Homo sapiens: one gene and its partners. The protein of the gene in region 1 purifies or fractionates together with the protein of each later gene. This does not show direct contact. Each region holds a gene or a part of one and is shown on either strand. Other genes may lie near its edges.

Region 1 (7,105 bases):
ACAGAGTCTCACTCTGTCAAGGTTCACTGCAGCCTTGACCTCCCTGGGCTAGATGATCCTCCTAGCTCAGCCTTCTGAGTAGCTGGGACTACAGGCGCATGCTACCACACCCAGCTAATGTTTTAAACTTTTTGGAGAGACCGGTTTCCCTACATTGCCCCTGGCTGGTCTTGAACTCCTGGGCTCAAGTAATCTGCCCGCCTTGGCCTCCTAAAGAGCTGGGATTACGGGCATGAGCCACCATGCTCAGCCCTGACTTATTTCTTAAAGTAAAATTAAAGAGGGCCAAGACTCACTGTGGCTTTGATTCACTAATCTCTGATCTCTCCCAGTTCCCTTATAGGGACATAATCAACTTTATAGGCAACACATCACTTGGGGTACACTGTCGGAAAAAAAAAATAAAACTAATTCTGCCTTTTACCAGTTCTGCTTCCAGTGCTTTTATTTTGCTTTCATATGCAGCTTTTTGAGAAGAAAGCTCTTGCTGAGCCATTTCTTTTGCAATCTGGATTCCTTGCATCATTTCTTCCTTTGCCTTCAACTGAGCCTCTTTTATTTCTGCTTCAAGTCTACAATGTAGCAAGATGTTTATAGGGTACATGTTAAGAATTCTTTATACATCATAATAGTTCTTAATCCTACTGAAAAGTTTTCCATTGAATGAAAGTTTCAATCTTAAAACTTGATTTCTGACATTCTATCAACAGTGTTTTTAAAATTTTCACTGGCTCTACAATTGTTTACACTCAAAATTTAAACACGCAGGACGAAAAATTGCTTATTTCTAACTTAGTTACTATTGCAGATGCCTGACATTTAAATAAAATCAGTGCTTTAGTAACTACATTATACAGAAATTTCCATTCCCAATTTTACTGAAAAAAAGAATAAGAGTATAAAAAAGAAGGTTAGTGGATATCACAGCTAGGGAGAGAGGAGAATGGCTATTGTTTAACAAATACAGAGTTTCAGTTTGGAATAATAAAACATTTCTGGAGATGGATGATGGTGATGGTTGCACAACAACGTGAAGGCACTAGGGTGGGCACAGTGACTCACGCCTGTAATCCCAGCACTTTGGGAGGCCAAGGCAGGTGGACTGCTTGAGCTCAGGAGTTCGAGACCAGCCTGGGCAACATGGTGAAACCCCATCTCTACAAAAAAATTCAAAAATTAGCCAGGCGTGGTGGTGTGCGCCTATAGTCTCACATGCTCGGGAGGCTAAGGTGGGAGGATGGCTTGAGGCCAGGAGGTGGAAGTTGCAATGAACCCAGATCATGCCAACTGTACTCCAGCCTAGACGACAGAGCCAGACTCCATCTCAAAAAAAAACCAAAAAACAAACAAAAAAAAAACCACAAAACAATGTGAAGGTACTTAATGCCTTTGGACTATACAATTAAAAATGGCTAACATGGTAAATTTTGTGCTATTTATATTGTATTCAATTAAAAAAATTCTTTTTAAAGGGCAAAAGCAGGTTGAGGCTTCTTAAAAGGTGACAAAGCAGTTAGTCTAGCCTATAACCAGTTCTTGATTCCTCCTCCTTTCATCCTCTTTAGTCACCAGGCCTTGTCAATCTTATCTCCTTTATGTTTCCTTCCTACCTAATCACACTATATTTACCTTACTTCAATAGTCTCTTAGCTGCATTTGCAGGTTTTAAGCTTGCTCTATCTCTAATGCATTCTCCAGATTTGAGTGCCAGTGATCTCTCTAAAAATGTAATTCTGATTATGAGTGTCTCACGTCTGCTCAAAATTCTTTAATGTTTCCCTTATCCTTTAAGATAAAGTCCAAACTCTTTAGCATTTTATTTGTATATACTTTACCATTTAGCTTACAAGGATACTACTTATGCCAGAAATCCTACGATACTGCATGAACTAAAACTGGGGCACAAGAAGAAAAGAAAAACAAAAGTACACTCTCCCAGTCTTCCTCTGGCTAAATTCTAATCGTCTATTGGGATTCTCCTCTATGGGACGTCTTCTCATCTTCTAGAAACCTTCCCTGATAACCGGTCAGGGCCAGGTGTCACCCCGTGAGCTTCCACACCACACAGTTCGGGACTCTTGTCAGAGAACTGTGTCATAGCACTGTTATAACTGTCAGCCCCTCGAGATGATGAATTCTTTCAGCACATGAGCTAAATTTCAATCCTTATTCTTTATATCTCCAGCATTTGGTACAGTGACAGACACATAATAGATGGTCAATATATATTTGGTGAACTAATGAATGTACTAAGAGAAAAAATTATATCACTAGAAACCAGCACCCAAAGAGTTAATTACTAGAGACTGGCACAATGTGATTAACTCTGTTGTAGATCTCTCTCATACACTTACTATTTCATATCAACAGCATACTTACTGTGATCTCTGTGCCATGAGCAACTCATTTTTTGCAAATTCAAAGTCTTTTGGACCCTCACTTATAGGAGTATCTCTTCCAGATGGCCTTTTTCCTTTCTGGACTTCTACTGGATGATTAAATCTAAAATAATGATCTCCACCAAGAATCACTCGATCACCCTAAAGCACACAAAAAAATGTACTACTTGAGGTGAGTCTCAACCAAAAAATTAAATGAGAAAATTTATTTTGCCCAACAATTCAATATAGTCTAGTATTAATGATAAACATAAACATCATAGCAACTAACATTTATTACTTTTTTTTTCTTTTGGCACAGAGTCTCACTATGTCACCCAGGCTGGAGTGCAATGGCACAATCTCAGCTCACTGCAACCTCGGCCTCACGGGTTCAAGCAATTCTCCTGCCTCAGCCTCCCGAGCTGCTGGGATTACAGGCGTGTGCCACCACACCCAGCTAATTTTTGCATTTTTAGTAGAGATGGGGTTTCACCATGTTGGCTAGGCTGGTCTCGAACTCCTGACCTCATGATCCACCCACCTTGGCCTCCCAACGTTTATTACTTTGTATATACCAAACACTGCATTAAGCACATTACACATATAGTCATATGTCTCTTAACAACAGGGATATGTTCTGAGAAGTACACTGTTAGGTGATTTCATAGTTGTGTGAATATCATGGAATGTACTTACACAAACCTGGATGGTATAGCCTACTACACACTTAGGCTATATGGCATAGCCTATTGCTCCTAGGTTACAAACCTGTACAGCATGTTACTGTACTGAATACCATAGGCAACTATAACACAATGGTAAATAATTGTATATCTAAACAGAAAAAAATACAGTAAAAATACAGTATTATAATCTTATGGGACCACTGTTACATATGTGGTCCCTCATTGCCCAAAACATCATTATGAAGTGCAAGACTTTATGTTATCTCATTTACGATTCACAACAACTCAGTGAGATACATATAATCATCCCAATTTTAGGAATGAGGAAACTAAACAGCACAAAGCTTAATAATAACAAGAGACATTCATTGAGAGCTTACTATTTGCAGATACTATTCTAAGAACTATATACACAAATTATTATTTCAGTTAATCCTTCACTATCTCTGAAAGGCAGGATATATAGAGTCACAATAGGTCTGGGTTTGCCTGTAACACACTGCTGATGTTTGTTCTCTTGATGTAATTATTAATAATGATCTCAAAAGTGTCCTGACTTGGGTGACATTGTTTAATCATCTAGTTAAATAACTTGCCAGACGTCACAGAGCAAATGGCAAAGCCAGGATTTCAACCCTGTCTGTCTGATTCTAAAGCCTAGCTCTTTATAGGACACATAATGATGCTATTAGTGGTCAGCTCTTCAGGTACTGATTCATATAAATGTAACTTTTGTCTTTGCACAAGAAAGCAATTAATAGGAAAAAGAATTTTTGAAATGAAAAAGTCCTTAATCTGCTTCAACACCCTTATCTTATAGAGAAAACCAGAACTCAAAGAAATTAAATGACTTATCCAAAGTCGAACAGTTTCTTATATTATAGCACCCATCCACTTACATGACGTAATACTGTGATTTCCAAAATATGTTTTCCATTTACATATGTCTTTGCTTCCCCAACTGGGATAATACTCACTGTCCCACCAAAATTTTTGATAGTACTGTTAAAATAAGAAGCACATAGTTAACAATTATAGAACACACTAAAAAGTAAGAAAAAGGCAATATGGGATAATTCTGCTTGGGCTATTCCTTTGGTGTTAAGATTCATACCAATATGTAACAATAATTTAAAATTATTTTATTTTCCTCCAACTAGTTTTTTTTTTTTTTTTTTTTTGAGACGGAGTCTTGCTCTGTCGCCCAGGCTGGAGTGTAGTGATACAATCTCAGCTCACTGCAAGCTCCACCTCCTGGGTTCAAGCAATTCTCCTGCCTCAGCTGCCTGAGTAGCTAGGATTACAGGCACCCACCACCATGCCCTGCCCAGCTAATGTTTGCATTTTAGTAGAGATGGGGTTTTGCCATGTTCGCCAGGCTGGTCTCTAATTCCTGACCTCAAGTGATCCACCTGCCTCGGCCTCCCAAAATGCTGGGATTACAGGCATGAGCCACTGCATCGAGCCTCCAATTAGATTTTGAAGTTTGGTGAAAAAAGCCTGGCCTCTAGCAATCCGATCCACCTGTGGTGGGAACATTCTTCATTGGGTGTATTTTTATTATAACTTCTTTGAAAACAAAAACCTTCCCCCAAAAATTCAAAAAAAAAAAAAAAAAAAAAAAAACTAGCAAAAAACATTAACATACTGCCAGTGATTTCTTATGAATAAAACAGTTTTAAGTGTTTTTTTAATTTTCTAAGCTTCTGGTTTTACATATGAGCTTTAATAACAGAAAGAACAAATATTTCTCCCCTTTTGAAAAGTAGGGTACTACAGAGGAAGGAAAAACATGGAGATCAAAGTGTACCCCTTAAGACATCTAATTTACTGGATGATAAGGTGATACTGTGGAAAATCAGCTATAAGTGCTACATATTTGAGTCTTTTTATTCAGAGAATAGGAAAGAAACTCCAAAGTCCAATTCATCTTTGGATTAACGGGATAGAAAGAAAAACTGCAACAAAAGCTGAGTCCTAACCAAAGATCTTTTTAGCTGTGGATTAGGCTCCAAGATCTGTGATTAGAGAATAATAGTTTAATTAAAGCATCTAGAGAAAAGTACATGGAAACAATAGTTCACCCTTAGGCACTACATCCCTCCTACCAGTCTAGTGTCTTATCCAGGTGAAGGTTTATACAATGTGTACTTGTTCTGATCCCTTTCCTCTCCTAATTCTATCTACTCTGCTCTCAAAATTCCATGGCCTACCATTCTGGACGCCCCACAATCTGGCTTCAACCACCAACCTCCCTCATCTGCCACTATTTTCCCATAAGAACCCCATTTCACACTTAATCAACCATATGAATACTCTGAATTTGCCTTAATGTCAGCTTTCCTCCTTTCCTTGAGTCATTCCTTCCAGATAGGACATCCTCTCCCTTCTTGCAACCATTCTTGAAGGCCCAATTTAGAGTCCTCTAAGAAGCTGTTCTTTAGGGTTTAAGTTAGAAGTCAACTCTTCCTTCTCTTCACTTCTAAGCAGTAAGTATGCAGTACTCATAACACTTAATATGCATTAATAGATACTGAAGTTCTTTTTTTCTCTTTCACATGACCAGCCTCAGCCATGAAGTTCTTTTATTCATTAAGCCTCCAAGAGCCAGTTATGTGTCAGCAATGAAGACAGACATGAAATCAGCTTTCATAAAGTTCATGGTCTAGTGAACAAGATAAACTGAGGAAGGTACGAAAAATGGAAGTAGAGAGTTAGAGGCAAGCAAGAGGCTTCCAAGTTCCTTACTGGACTCTTAACTCTTTGGGAGCATGTTCTGTATCTTTGCCACAGATGTTAATAATACTGTATTTATTTGTTAAAGAAAATAATTAATTAATAAAAGAGCAAAAGAACCTAAAGAACAAAAGGATATGCCCTAACAGATATAAAGATTCATGGCCAGGTGCAGTGGCTCACGTCTGTAATCCCAGTACTTTGGGAGGCCAAGGTGGGTGGATCACCTGAGGTCAGGAGTTCAAGACGAGCCTGGCCAACATGATGAAATCGTCTCTACTAAAAATACAAAAAACTAGCTGGGCATGGTGGCTGCTACTCAGGAGGCTGAGGCACGAGAATCGCTTGAACCCAGAAGGTGGAGGTTACGGTGAGCCAAGATCACACTACTGCACTCCAGCCTGGGTGATAGAGTGAGACTCCATCTCCAAAAAAAAAAAAAAAAAAAAAGATATAAAGATTCATTACAGGCCGGTCGTGGTAGCTCACACCTGTAATCCCAGCACTTTGGGAGGTCAAGGTGGGCGGATCACCTGAGGTGGGAGTTTGAGACCAGCCTGGCCAACATGGTGAAACCCCATCTCTACTAAAAATACAACAATTAGCCAGGCGTGGTAACAGACATCTGCAATCCCAGCTACTCAGGAGGCTGAAGCAGGAGAATTGCTCGACTCCAGGAGGTTGCAGTGAGCTGAGATGGTGCCACTACACTCCAGCCTGGGCAACAGAGCAAAACTCTGAAATCAAAAAATAAATAAATAAAGATTCATTACAAAGCTCAAGTAATTACGACCATGGGGTATTAGTAGGAAGAAACAGATTCTGATATTTTTAGAAATTTTTTGTAGGAGCACTACAGATTCCAAAAGAAGCAATAAACTATTTAATATTTGGTACTGGGAGAAATGGCTATTCATGTGGAAAATAAATGAATTTAGATCCCTAATTCACACCAAATAAAAAATTCCAGACATTCAATAACTTAAATGTGAAAGCAAAACTTCAAAACATCTAGAAGAAAATTTAGAACATCTCTATGACCTCAATGTACAACAGTCTTTTTTTTTTTTTTTTTTTTTGAGTTAGAGTCTCACTCTATTGCCTAGGGTGGAGTATAGCAGAGTCATCTTGGCTCACTGTAGCTTCCACCTCCCAGGTTCAAGTGATTCTTATGCCTCAGCCTCCCAAGTAGCTGAGACTATAGGTGCCCACCACCATGCCGGGCTAATTTTTGTATTTTCAGTAGAGATGAGGTTTCACCATGTTGGCCAGGCTGATGTTGAACTCCTGGTCTCAAGTAAT
Region 2 (7,327 bases), on another chromosome or scaffold:
AAATCAACTCATTCTCTGTCAAAGAGTTCTTCCAAAATGCCAAGTCTACAAGAAGGGATGTGTGGCAAACCATCTGCATGGGGCTCTCCCACACCAGCCCACTCTCAGGCCCACAGCCTTTACCCTTTTGCTCAGGTGCACTTCAGAAGTGCAGGGATATTGAATGCCTGCTCAAGGTAGACCAAGGAGCCTTGATGGATGTCAGCTAGCTTTTTGTACTGCACGTGATGACCTCCAGCACTTGCTGCCAATGCCTTAGCTTTGTCAAGTGCTTCTGGACCAGTGCATGTCTCCAATGTTATTCATTTCTTAGTTCGGAGACATCGACATCCTCATTGATAACTTGCTCTGGTTTCTGGACAGATAATTGCAATCTTTTTTGTAGGAAAGAAATATTCTGTCTTGCAATATCCAGAAACTTGTGTATACACCGATCAACACCAGTTCCAATTTCTTCCTGATTGCTGCCATTGACATAGTCCTGACTTAACGGAGAGGCAAAGCAAGTCTGGAAAGATGACTCCATGTCATCCACCAAAGTACTGTTAGAAGGTCTCAGAGGCCCTGGAGCTGCTGGTAAGTAAAGGAAGCCTGGCCCCAGAGCCCCGGTGGTGGTTGGGGCCCCGATGGCTGCCCAAAGAACATACTGCCTAGCAAAGCAGCCATGCCTGGAATAATTTTTTTTTCTTATTTTTAGTAGCGATGAGGTGTCACTATGTGCCCAGGTTGGTCTTGAACTCCTAAGCTCGAGTGATCATCTCATCCCAGCCTCCCAAAGTGCTAGGATTACAAGTGTGAGCCACCACATCCGGCCTTTTCTACATAATTCTAAATATGGCTTATAGTCTTCTTCCTCCCTCTTCATATTGCCAATTTTTGTTAATATAAATTATTATTTTTAATAATTGTGTACTGTTCTTCTGTTTGGATGTAACGGAATTTAATCATATTCCTACTGACATTTATATTGTTTTCCTTTTCTTTGCTTTTTGAGACAGGGTCTCACTCTGTTGCACAGGCTGGAGTGCAGTGATACAATCTTGGCTCACTGCAGCCTTGACCTCCTGGGCTCAAGCGATCCTCCTGCCTCAGCCCTGCGATTTTCCTTCTTTAATAATCAACACTGCTGTGATAAACATCCATGTTCACCTGTCCCAATATTATTTTAACTTTTTAAAGTATTTTTCTTTTTTTCACCCCTTCTTTTCACAGGTGTTGACCAATATTACTTTAGAATATTGATGTGGATTTTGTTGTTGTTGAGAAAAGGTCTTGCTCTGTCACCCAGACTGCAGTTGCAGTGGCATGATCATGGCTCCTCCAGGGGCTCAAGTGATCCTCCCAGCTCAACCTAGCCTCCCCAGTAGCTAAGACTACAGGCGTGTACCACCATGCCTGGCTAGTTTTGTGGGTTTTTTGTTTTGTTTTGTTTTGTTTAAGAGACAGAGTCTCACTTTGTTGCCCAGGCTGGTCTTGAACTACTGACCTCACGCCATCCTCCCACTTCGGCCTCCCAAAATGCTGGGATTACAGATGGGAGCCACTGTGCCCTGCCCAGATTTATTTAAGAAACCAAGTACCATATAAATGGGAAACAAAAAGTATTATAAGAATTCAAAGGTAGGAGGGAGAGATCAGTTTGGCCCAAAATGGTCCCAAGAAAGTTATTAATACTAAAGGAAGTGATTCTTGAGATAGGTTTTCAAGAATGGGGAAGAATTCCCTAAGATGCAAACAAATGAATTTGGTAAGAAAGGAAGCTGCAGATTTTGGACATTTTATTTTGAATTAAGAATGTATTCCGAGCCAGGCACAGCGGCTCAGGCCTGTAATCCCAGCACTTTGAGAAGGTGAGCCAGAAGGATCACTTGAGTCCAGGAGTTCAAGACCAGCCTGGGCAATATAGTGAGACCCCCATCTCTACAGAAAATTAAAAAAATTACCAAGAATGGTGGCATGCGCCTGTGGTTCCAGCTACTATGAAGGCTGAGGCAGGAGGACTGCTTGAGCCCAAGAGGTGGAAGCTGCAATGAGCTATGATGGTGCCACTTAACTCGAACCTGGGCGACACAGTGAGACCCCATCTCTAAGAAAAAAACAAAAACAAGACAAAACCAAAAAAGAATGTACTCCGGTCATTGTCATTTCCTTGAGACGTTAAGATTTAAATTACTTTGGATTTTCTTAACAGAATGAACAGGAGTTGGACTGGTGGAGAGGAAAGCGCATGACGATGTAGGAGGGTCTCGGACACCAATGCATCGCCACGTCTAAGTGAAGCAGCAGCAAGCGATATTGGTGTGGGCGACGAGGGTGGACACGGAGTCTGGGGACGGCCGACTGTGGGAGATCTAGTTACAAGGCAATAAGTCCATAAGACTGGCTTTTTTGAAGACCACAGACGCTCTTTGGGACTCAGTCCAGAGCTACAAAAACGTGGGGACGAATTGCGCCTTACAACGTCTGCCCTTGGCCTTGGCAGGGGCTCCTCCCCATCCCTCGCCATTTGCCAACAGGGGCCGGCCTGGCCGGGCTCGCTCTCACCTGCGCCTGGATGCAGAGAGAGATGCAGTCGTGCGAGAGCCGGTACCTGCGCAGCAGCCGCAGGCATTTCACCAGGTGCTCCTCCCCCGCCGACAGCTCCTCCGTGTCGATGTGGTTCACCCCGAGGTGGAACTCGATGACTGCCAGCCTCACCGCTCGCTGGGCGACGGGCCCCTCGGGCTCCACCACCTCAGCCGGCAGCCCCAGGGCGTGGTCACCGGCACCCGGGCCGTCCTCGGCCTCAGGCCGCTCATCCTCGTCCTCAGGCGCAGGGCCGAGCAGCGCCTTGACCTCTTCCAGTAGCGCCCGGGCGCTGTATTTGGACTTGTATGGTTCCTTCTCCGGATTTTTATGCAGTTCCACCCGCGACAGAGCGAGCGCCGCCTGGAATTTCTCGCAGACCTCTGCCCACGGAACGTTCGCCATAGCGGCCTCTACTGCCTGGCTTTCCTCAATGTTTGCAGTCGGGACTCCCGCCTTCCTTCTGCTTTGCGACACTTTACTTACGGCTCTCGACACGTTGCGGCCGCTGTGGAATGGGAACCAATATAACCCTCCCGGAGAACCGCAATACGCTCGGCAATGACCAATGGGAAGACGCAGCAATCACCACAGCAACCATTCTCATGGAAATGAAGTTGTCAATGAGCGTGTTCCCACCTCCTTCCCCGCCCCCTGCAGCGGTGAGTTTATCTCCAGATTGACCCTGTGAGGATGGATTTATATAAATGTTTAATATCGGCTTACTTTAACGAAGCATATCGGAATATTGTTTACAAACATAGCTAGCTAACTCTACTCGCGTTGATATGAACTGAAAGGCAAAAACCTTTAGACATTAAGTGTATAGCCCAGCCTGTCACTGGATAAAACTTTTTTTAAAAAAGGCCAGGCGCAGTGGCTCATATCTGCAATCCTAACATTTTGGGATGCCAGTAACATTTTGGGATGCCCACTGGAGTGGGCAACATAGCAAGACCCATCTCTACATAATTTTTTTTAAAAAATTAGCCGGGCGTGGTGGCGCGCGACTGTAGTCCCAGCTACCATGGAGGCTGAGGCGGAAGGATGGCTTGAGCCCAAGAGGTGGAGGTTACAGTGAGCGAGACTGCCTCAGAAAAAAAGAAAACACGAGCATTAGAACAAATACCTAATGTATGCGGGGCATAAAACTTAGCTGACAGGTTGATAGGTGCAGCAAACCACCATGGCACATGTATACCTATGTAACAAACCTGCATGTTCTGCACATGTATCCCAGAACTTAAAAGTAAAATAAAAGAAAAAAAATTGAAATGTAGCCAAGAGCTGATTATTATCATTGACACATAATCTCTTGATCGAGAGCCATAAATATACAAAACACTCAGTGATAGACAAATATTTTCACTTCGACCCTGAAATACAGGTTGTAGGAATCTGTACAACTGCCCAAGGTAACAAGAGCTAAGTCCCACAGCTGTGAAAGCCGCCTCATGCCTTTTACCTTCCTAAGTTATCAAGTCAAATGGGGAGGGGTGATAGAAGATTTTAACTATTAAGCACCAGCTGTGTACAGTGCTTTGAGACATACAAAGGAGCATTGATTTTGGGAGCTCATAGACATATGGTTTGAACCTCAGACCAACCAGCTTTCTTATTGACAAGTTAACTTTTTTAAGCTTCAGGTTTCCCACAGTAAAATCTGAATGATACTACTTACCTCGACAGAATTATTCTGAAGAATAAATAAAATTAAACGTCTATCCTTTAAGTGTTAATGCTCCTAAAAAGTCCTTCCTAAACCTTATCCCTGGGAGATCTCATCCATTTCCAGGTCTATCATTAAACACGCTGCTCACTCCCACTTTGTCTCCAGGCCAGATGGCTCTCCAGAGCTCCAGACTGGAATATCCAACATCCAGCTACAACAATCACACCTGAATGTTTCAATAGCTGCTGTGTGTCAGTATGTTCAAGTCTAAATGATCTTCCTCTTCACATGCCCCTTCCTTCCCATACCAAATTTGCCACATTTGCAGTTCTACATGTCAGTGAATGGCACCACCATCCACCAGGCTGATTTCCTGCACTTTTTTTTTTTTTTTTGGTAGAGATGGAGTCTTGCCATGTTGCCCAGGCTTATCAAGCAATCCTCCCACCTCAGCCCCCTAAAGTGCTGGGATTACCAAGCCCAGCCTGTTCTGTCATTCTTTTTTTTTTTTTTTTTTTTTTTTGAGACGGAGTCTTGCTTTGTTGCCCAGGCTGGAGTGCACTGGCGTGGTCTCAGCTCACTGCAACCTCAACCTCCTGAGTAGTTGGGATTACAGGTGTGCACCACCACACCTAGCTAATTTTTGTATTTTTGGTAGAGACGGGGTTGGGGGGGCGGTTCACCATGTTGGCCATACTGGTCTCGAACTCCTGACCTGAAGTAATGTGCCCGCCTTGGCCTCCCAAAGTACTGTGATTACAGGCGTGAGCCACTGCACCAGGCCTCTTCTGTCATTAAACCTAAAACCAGATAGTACTGCTTAGTCCACCTCCTAAAGAGCTCTGTGTACATCTTTTTATCTCCATTAGTTTAGGCCACCATCATCTGATTACTTCTAACAGGCAGTCCTGCTGCCAGTTTGGCCTCCTATCAGTGCATCTCCCAGTACATTTAAAATGATTTGGGCCAGGCGCAATGGCTCACACCTGTAATCCTAGCACTTTGGGAGGCCAAGGTCGCGGGATCGATTGAGCCCAGGAGTTCAAGACCAGCCCGGGCAACATGGCAAAACCCCGTATCTACAAAAAAATAAATAAATAAATACAAAAATTTGACAGGCATGGTGGTGGATGCCTGTAGTCCCAGCTACTCAGGAGGCTGACATGGGAGATCACCTGAACCTGGCAGTTGGAGGCTGCGGTGAGCTGTGATCAAGCCGCTGCACACCAGCCTGGGTAGCAGAGTGAGACCCTGTCTCAAAAAAAAAAAAAAAAAAAAAAAATTTGTTCACCTGTTCAATATTTAGTTATCTATTATTTGCCAGCACTGTTGTAGGTGCTGGGAATTCAGCAGTAAAAAATGGATAAAAATTCACCAGCCTGGACAATATAGTGAGATCCCTGGCTCTACAAAAAACATCTTTTTTTTTGAGACAGAGTCTTGCTCTGTCACCCAGGCTGGAGTGCAGTGGCATGATCTCAGCTCACTGCAAATTCTGCCTCCCGGGTTCACGCCATTCACCTGCCTCAGCCTCCCAAGTAGCTGGGACTACAGGCGCCCGCCACCATGCCCAGCTAATTTTTCTACAAAAAACATTTTTAAAGAAATATTGGCCAGGTGTGGCGGCACATGCCTATAGTCTTAGCTAAGTGGGAGACTGAAGTAAGAGGGTCATTAGAGCCCAGGAGTTCAAGGCTGCAGTGAGCTATGATCATGCCACTGAACTCCATCCTGGGTAACAGATAGAGACCCTGTCTCAAAGAAAGACAAAAATCCATGCCCCGGTATAGGGAAAACACTAAATATATTAAATACATAAACCTCAATGCAATGACTGGAGATCCATCTCATGACAGATAATTAGAAGAGGGCGGGCATGGTGGCTCACACCTATAATCCCAGCACTTTGGGAGGCCAAGGCAGGACGATTGCTTGAGGCCAGGGGTTCACAAACAGCTTGATCAACAGAATGAGACTCCATCTCTATAAAAAATTTAAATATTAGCCAGGTTTGGTGGTACCCCCCTGTAGTCTCAGCTACTTGGGAGGCTGAGAGGGAAGATCACTTGAGCCTAGGAGTTCAAAGCTGTAGTTCTACCTTTAGAAAACGTATCCTAAGGTGACAGACGAGTATGCAAACACATATGTGAGGATATTAACTTTAGGGTTGTTTATAATGGTGAAAAATTAGAAATAACCAACATGGACATCGAGTACTGGTTAAATGTGTAGTGGCATATCCATACAAGAAAACATGTCATCAAAAATGTCCATGTAAGCCTGTACAAAATTGTGCACAACATGTTGAGGGGGGAAAAGCAATACACAAAATCAAATAATTCCAATTTTATAAATGAACATGTGGAAGACTGCTCACTAAAATATTAGATAAGGGTGACTGGTTTTTTTTCTCTTTAGATTTTTATATCTAGCTTTTATTATTTTTATAATAAATATTTCAAGCTATTTTCATTTTAGAAAACAAAAGCCACTAAAATCAAGTATTACTATCTTTATTATGGTATACAGCAGTATTTTATACATTAGCTCATTTTATAGTAAAAACATTTATGCACAACTGTAGAGAAACTGCTGCACAGATAGCTCCAACTTAAATTAGAAAATATTTTCTTTGTAGAAAATAGTAAAAATTATAACATTTACCAAGCTAACCCAACAAGTTCATTTAAACCAAAAAGTAGCTAAATACATTATACATTTATAAATACAGGTTGAATTCTGGGATCCAGGAGAAACTTTAGTCCTTTATTGAAATAGCCATGTTTTAAGTTATGTGAAGTGAAATTTCTATTAATCTTCTCTCTTACTCTTAATTTATGCCAGATTATTTTTCTTTAGGCTAAATCCATAATCCACAACAAGGTTTTAGCTGTTCTTTTCTAAAGGACGGGTACCATATCCTTTTAATCTGCTTGATAAGGTACCCATGCCTATCCAAATAATGAAATGGTTCAGTTATTATTAAAGCATGCCCAGTATTTGGGCAAAACCAGAATCTAATAAATTACACTGTCACCTAATACCCATGGCTTGATGGGAAGCCATGAGGAACAAGGGTAAAGTGATAAA
Region 3 (7,000 bases), on another chromosome or scaffold:
CAACTTATTCAAAAGTCAACTCAAAATGGATCACAAACCTAAATATAAAACATAAAACTATAAAACATCTAGAAAAAAACATGAGAAAATTTTTATTATGTAGGGCAACGTAAAGAGGACTTAGACCTGATACTAAAAAGGTATAATCCATAAAGGAAATATTGACGTATTGGACTTCATCAAAATTAAACACTTTTGCCCTGCAAATGACCCTGTTGAAAAAATGAATATATACGTTATATAGTGTAACAGATAATACTTACAAAGCACATATCCAACAGTGGACTAGTACCTAGAATAACTCAAAACTCAATAGTAAAAACATAATCTAATTAGAAAATGGCCAAAAGAAATTTGCTTTGTCTCTTCATGCTGCTGTTACAAAATACCTGAGATTTGGTCATTTATAAAGGACAAAAATATATTGTTTCACAGTTCTGGAGGCTGGGAAGTCCAAGATCAGTGCACCGCCATTTAGTGATATGGCCTTTCTTGCTTCATCCTCACATGGCAGAAAGTGGAAATGCAAAACAGGTCTAAGCTAGTTCCCTTCAGCCCTTTTATAAAGCACTACCAGGGATGTCCAATATTTTGGCTTCCCTGGGCCACAATGGCATAAGAAGGATTGTCTTGGGCCGCACATAAAATACACTAACACTAACAATAGCTGAGCTAAGAAACTAAAATTGCAAAAAAAATCTCATAATGTTTAGAAAGGTTACAAATTTGTCTTGGGCCACTTTCAAAGCCATCCTGGGATGCCTGTGGCCTGTGGGCCGTGGGTTGGACAAGCCTGCACTAATCCATTCATGAGGGCAGAGCCTTCATGACTAATCACTTCCCAAAAGGCTCTGCCTCTTAATGCAAACCACAATGGGGATTAAATTTCAACATGCATTTTGGAGGGAGCATTCAGACCATAGCATCCATGAACAGACAATTCACCAACCACAATCTACAGATGGCAAATAAGCACATGAAAAGATGTTCAACATCTTTAGCCATTAGGGAAATGCAAATTAAAATCACAATGAAATATCACTACACACCCATAAGAATGGCTAAAATAATACCACCACCACCAAATGCGGGCTAGAATGTGGAGAACCCTGACCACTTACACATTGCTGATGGCAATGTAAAATGGAACAGCCATGCTGGAAAACATTCATCAGTTTCTTAAAAAAACTAATTATACAACTTCCACATAACCCAACAATTATCCCCCAAAATGAAGATTTATATTTATACCAAAAACCTGTTCATGAATGTCTAGAGTGGCTTTATTTGTAATAGCCAAAAACGAACCAACCCAGATGTCTTTCAACAGATGATGGTTAAACAAACTGTGGTAGGTACATCCATATCATAGATTGCTACATAGCAAGAAAAAGGACTGTAACGGGATTATTACACATTGTATGCCTATATCAAAACATCTCATGTACCTTATAAATATATACACCTACTATGTACCCACAAAAATTAACAAAAGAAAATGGAACTAAATACTGATAAATACAACAACTTAAGAGTTTTCCACAAAACTCTCCCTGAAAAGTAAAAACAGGATGTCACCACTGCAGTGTCCTGCAGCATGGTGCATTGGTAGAGACCACTGATCTGTGACGCTATGTCAACAGAGCAGACAGCTGCCACCCCAAAATGCAGGACCCTAATTCGCTGTTAGGACAGGATCTTCTAACCATGGATGCTTTTCAGGGCTGACACATGTGATCTGTGTAGTTGTAAAGGGATTTAATGTTTAGCTATAGCTGTCTTGAAATTTTAACACGGGTCCCTGCCTTTTTATTTGGCACTGGATTCTGCAACCCAGGTAGCTAGTTCTAGTGTCTGGATACACAAAAGGGATGGTGAAAGGTAGATTGGCAGGAGGGAGAGTTAGGTTCTGGTCTCAGCTCTACCACTCACAATTTCATGACTGAGGCAGGCCACTTTCCTCTGGGCTTTATTTTCTATGTGTGGATGAGGGGTGTGTGTCCACATGCTATACATACTTGGGTACTTCAGCTGACCTTCCTAATGCAATATACCCCCAGCAATAAAAATGGCTCAAAATTACAGTCATCCTAAAATAAGGAATGGGGCATTTAGAAAAACAACCACAATAGGTAATTCTGACAGACACGCCTGGGGTTGAGGGCCACTGTGTGGGAGCAGCGAATGTCCCTCACTGAGTATAAGGCTGTCACAGCAAGCGCTTCTCAACTAAATAGAATGCATCTGTGTTCTCAGAGGGAAAGCCATTGCTCGGTCACTCACCCTCACCCACTTTTTGCTAAATGCTAATGATAATAAATAATATTACTATCATAGAGCCCTTTTTATTTCTCCTCCAAGACATACTACTTACTAAACAGATTAGATGAGCTTTAAAAAATAAAATGGCACACTGCCAAAGAGCAGTACTTCATTAGATTCTGTCAAAAACTGAAGGATGGTTTTCTTTTCTATTTTTTAACACATATATAGAAAATGACCCAAAGTATCCATATTACCTTGTTAACTTTCACACCTTCTTTTGGAGTTTGTTTTGTCGCTAGATTGTACCCAATCATCTGTTTAGCCAGCTGTCCCACAACATTAGGGCTAAGAGAAAGAGAAAACAAGCAGAAAATGAATGTTTGTTGAAAATCATTTAAATGAGAGTCCTTACACAGAGCCTCATGTCTACACTGCAAAGGGTTCACCTTCACCCTCACAAAATCCATGAGTCTTTCTGCTTATGTGCTGCGTGTTTAGCACTGTACTAGAGGCTCACTGAGAGCAAAATAAAAGTGAGTTCATGAATGAATAAATGAAACAAAAGATGCTTTGTGACCTCTTCACCCAAAAAAGTTACAGTCATAGTAAAGAGAGAATGCTGAAATGCACACCAGATTCAGATAAGGGTTGACTGAAGATCCGACAGTGGAAAACTGGGGAGATATTGAACAATGAGAGGGAAAGGAAGAGGGTAAAGATCAAAGTAAATAGTAAAAAGGTGTGTGACAGGAACAGGGAGGAGAGGAAAGTGTTCAGTGCTAGGAGATGCAGGAGATGAAGTTGAAAAGACAGGCTCAAATAAAGGAAGGCTTGGACTATCAGAGGGGAGGTACCCCAGATGCCACTGGTAATGGGGAGTCCCTTCAGGTCCTTGAATAGAGGAGTGACATTATGGAAGTAGCATTTCAGTTGGAAGTGGTATCATTTCCAACATTTATGATGAATCATTGATTGTTTAGGACAGAAGGACTGTCAAGTTTTCACCAATTAGTAAGAAAAATCATTTTGTGGGGGCAGAAGGAAAACTAGGGCACTGCCAGAGCCCTCTACCTATGATTTCAGTTTCTTCTAGTTGCTTTGGCCCGCTCCTACCCCACCACAACCAACCTCAGTGTGCCTTTCAATCTTGAGCAAGATCTTCCATAACTGCTTGGCCAAAAGACAAGGAATAACAACCTCCAGACTTACTCTTTTGTTAAATGAACACCTCCTTTCAAACCACTATTGAAGACACCTTTTCCTCTTCCTCCAGCTAAGATCTGGGCTTTTAAAACAATTTCTTTTGCATCTGAAAAAGAAAAATCCAGAGTTGGTAGCTGATTTTAAATTCTTTTTTTGTTTTTTAAGCAATAAGGAAAGCAATAATGGCACATAACTTCCAAGTAACTGGTAAAAGCTCTCTCAAACTAACTTTGAAAATAAATGCAATGAAGAACTTCAAAAAAACATCTATGAGCCTAAATACAAAGCTTGTTTACTGAGGATATTCAAATGCTTCCTACCAGTTTAATCATCTAATACTTGACCTTCCCAAGGGAAAGCAAGACATGTGTTCCCTTGCTCTTTTGAGTGTGTCAGAAGAAGCTAAATAAATCCTGGAAGGAGGTATTAATTTTACTGTGTAATGGCACTCCCATGTGGCAGAGGCACCAGTTGGCCAGTAAGAGGAGCTAACCATCAGAGATGTCAAAGGGAAGACTGGATTATGCGGGGGAAGGTTTAAAGACAAGACACAAAGGTCATAGTTAATAACTGCATTATTGGAAACCAACAGTTTTCTGAGCAGTTGTTCTATATACTGATAGGGTTGGGAAAGGGAGGAGGAAATGGATTAAAACTAAAAGCAAGCAATATTTTAAAATCATTGGCAAGGTAACAAAATATCCTGGGGGAAAGTGGTTGTGGAATCTTTGTTTCTCATCACACTCCACGAATGAAAGAACTCTCTAATCTTGACTTTTTAGACGAGAGTTATTAACACAAATATCTTCCCTTGCAGGGAAGTTGGGTGCATGAAGTAGCCCAGTGACAAATGGGGCCTTTAGCAAACAGGGTAGCTCCCCTCCCCAACCACCAAAACAAAACAAAACAACAACAAACAAAAAACTGCCTCCAAATCAAATATGTTTAATAAACCAAATAGCACACAACTGCAGACCACAGCTGATATCCTCTGTTTGTGAGTCATCTTTATTTAAAATCACAGAACCCAGCTGATCCCCTATAAGGCCATGAGAGTATTCTGGTTCAGTATACCAGATTTAGAATCTGCAAACCCAGGTTTCAATCTGGCCTTCATCCCTCACCCAGCTGTGTGACATTAGGCAAGTTACTTAATGTCTCTGAAACTCGGTTTATTCAACTGTGAAATGATGACAAGGGTTGTTTTAAAAATTAAATGAACACACATGAATGCTTTATCCCAGAGCCTGAAAACTTGTGATTAATTAAAAACTATTGCCTCGACCAGTTAGTTCATTTATTACCTTTGTATATTGTAAAGAATGAAAGGAATCATTACAGAGATGGCTAAACCAAAAAACTAACAAGCGCTCCATTAAGTTTGGTTATTTCAGCTATTACTGTCACTGTCATCATCATTGTTACCCACAGGCAAGCAGGTAAAGGTTCAAACGGAAAGAGCTGTGGAAGGTTTTATCATCAAGGCAATGGGGAGCTACAGAAGTATTTTACAGAAGGCATTCAGCCAGCTGATGTCACACCATTGAGGCTCCTTCACTGCCTTCATTGGTTAGTCTTCTTGTCTCCTATATTTGCTTACACTCAGAAAGCTGAAGCCCACCTTCTTCTCAGAAGCAAACACAGTTTTTTCTTAGAAGGCTGTCCTGTGTACCCTCTGGCAATAATTTCTGCCCTGGATACGAACCATCACAACATTGGTCAAGCCCTGTCTTATAATAAACTGGTTTCCATCAAGCTGAGTAGAAGACAAATTAATTGTCAGAAACTCACAAGGAAAGCAACCAAGTAAAATGAATACATTGCATATTTAGCTTACTGCAAGAACAGTAGTAAGAGCAAGGATATTGGAGTTAAACAGACCTGGTTAAAATCTCCAACTCTACCTATCACTTTCTTTGTAGAGAAGAAACAACTGAGATTCAGAAAGGTAAAAGTAGCATGCCCTTCTGTAAAGTAGTCATATTAAAGAAGTCTACAGTGTAAGGATGATGTGAAGAATAAATGAAATACAGTAAAGTGCCTGGCACATTTTTTTAAAGTCAAAATATGATAGCTATCAACATTATAATAATTTTCAGCAATTAAGAAAAAATGGCACACAGGAAGACATTTCCTGTTTTTCTTTGGAAGACATCAAGTGGAAAAAATACTTTTTGCTGTCTACTCAAATTTTTAATTGTGATCACTTCAAATTCTTTACATAACTGGCATTCCATTGCCATTATCATTTTTCATATCCTTGTCATCCTGAAGAGATGCTTTCCTCTCTGAGCTTTCCAGCAGCAAAACTTGAAAGCCAGAGAGAATACCTAATTGGGCATTGTTAATTGGCACTACATAGGCTTGATTAGATCAGCTTTAGTCACTAACCATCAAGACACAGAAAGAGTTGTATCCTCAATGAAGTGTTGTCAATTAAACGTGTCGCCATTTGACCTCCAGTCAAAGTATTCCATGCAAAACAGTGTTGGTAGAACAAGCAACCAGTTCAGAGACTATGAAACCAGAGATCAGGACAAATAGAAAAAGACAACAACCTACGCACATCTGCAACATACACCCCAGGCCAAAAATGAGTTCACTAAAATCATCTCTTCTGATTACATCTCAAGTGCTAAATCAATATAGTAAGTCAGCAAGTCAGCAGCCCAAAGTAAAGCAAGTTTTTCTCATCTTGAGAAAAACTCTCATGAAGTAATTTAATTCAAGGCTTATTTACTCAAGGTGCTGAAAATTAAGATGACAAATCCCACTCAACAGTAACTCGTCTCTTCATTCAGTATTTACCAAATTGATTCACATGTACTAAATGTCACTGTTTCTATTTATTTAAAGATCTGATCTCTCCCAAAACTCAAATTTCTGTTTTTATTTAACATTGCCTCTTGCCCCAATCCTGAACGGTATTAGAAAAGAAAAAAAAATCCCATATATGAAATGCAATTTTTGTCTGAATAAGACGACTTAACCATCCTTTAGAAAAACAAGCTAAAAGGACAGAGGAAAAAATTAACTCTAATATGAGTTGGGGTTTTATTTTTGTTTTTTGTTTTAGACAGAGTCTCACTTTGTCACCCAGGCTGGAGTGCAGTGGTGTGATCTTGGCCCACTGCAACCTCTGCCTCCCGGGTTCAAGCGGTTCTCCTGCCTCAGCCTTCTGAGTAGCTGGGGTTACAGGCACATGCCACCATGCCCAGCTAATTTTTTGTATTTTTAGCAGAGATGAGGTTTCCCATGTTGCTCCAGCTGGTCTCAAACTCCTGAGCTCAGGCAATCTGCCCACCTCAGCCTCCCAAAGTGCTAGGATTACAGGCATAAAATAGATTTTATATAGAAGTAGACAACAACCTAGACATTGATAATTATATTATTGGACTCTGAGTTGGTATAACTTGGGTCTGGATAACTCCAAAGTCTTTGCTCTTAATTGCTATTTTTATACGCAGTAGCCTAAGTATGCAACGTCTTCACTAAATTTTGTTCCTTTCTTAGTGAGTTTCTGAAAATAACC

What was found.
Region 2: the proteins of KIF14 (region 1) and KIFBP purify together in Homo sapiens (affinity purification with mass spectrometry; 4 studies listed by BioGRID and IntAct, with this or other methods). This does not show direct contact.
Region 3: the proteins of KIF14 (region 1) and SUCLG2 purify together in Homo sapiens (affinity purification with mass spectrometry; 2 studies listed by BioGRID). This does not show direct contact.

Annotation. Positions count from the first base shown.
Region 1 is NC_000001.11:200,589,701-200,596,805, forward strand, and holds part of KIF14 (kinesin-like protein KIF14), read right to left. Parts: intron 4,070-7,105; coding exon 3,967-4,069; intron 2,541-3,966; coding exon 2,380-2,540; intron 573-2,379; coding exon 425-572; intron 1-424. UniProt on the Homo sapiens protein: Microtubule motor protein that binds to microtubules with high affinity through each tubulin heterodimer and has an ATPase activity. Plays a role in many processes like cell division, cytokinesis and also in cell proliferation and apoptosis.
Region 2 is NC_000010.11:68,984,476-68,991,802, reverse strand, and holds the start of KIFBP (KIF-binding protein), read right to left. Parts: upstream 3,001-7,327; 5' UTR 2,971-3,000; coding exon 2,545-2,970; intron 676-2,544; exon of another isoform or gene 1-675. UniProt on the Homo sapiens protein: Activator of KIF1B plus-end-directed microtubule motor activity. Required for organization of axonal microtubules, and axonal outgrowth and maintenance during peripheral and central nervous system development.
Region 3 is NC_000003.12:67,525,613-67,532,612, forward strand, and holds part of SUCLG2 (succinate--CoA ligase [GDP-forming] subunit beta, mitochondrial isoform 2 precursor), read right to left. Parts: intron 3,575-7,000; coding exon 3,475-3,574; intron 2,611-3,474; coding exon 2,520-2,610; intron 1-2,519. UniProt on the Homo sapiens protein: GTP-specific succinyl-CoA synthetase functions in the citric acid cycle (TCA), coupling the hydrolysis of succinyl-CoA to the synthesis of GTP and thus represents the only step of substrate-level phosphorylation in the TCA.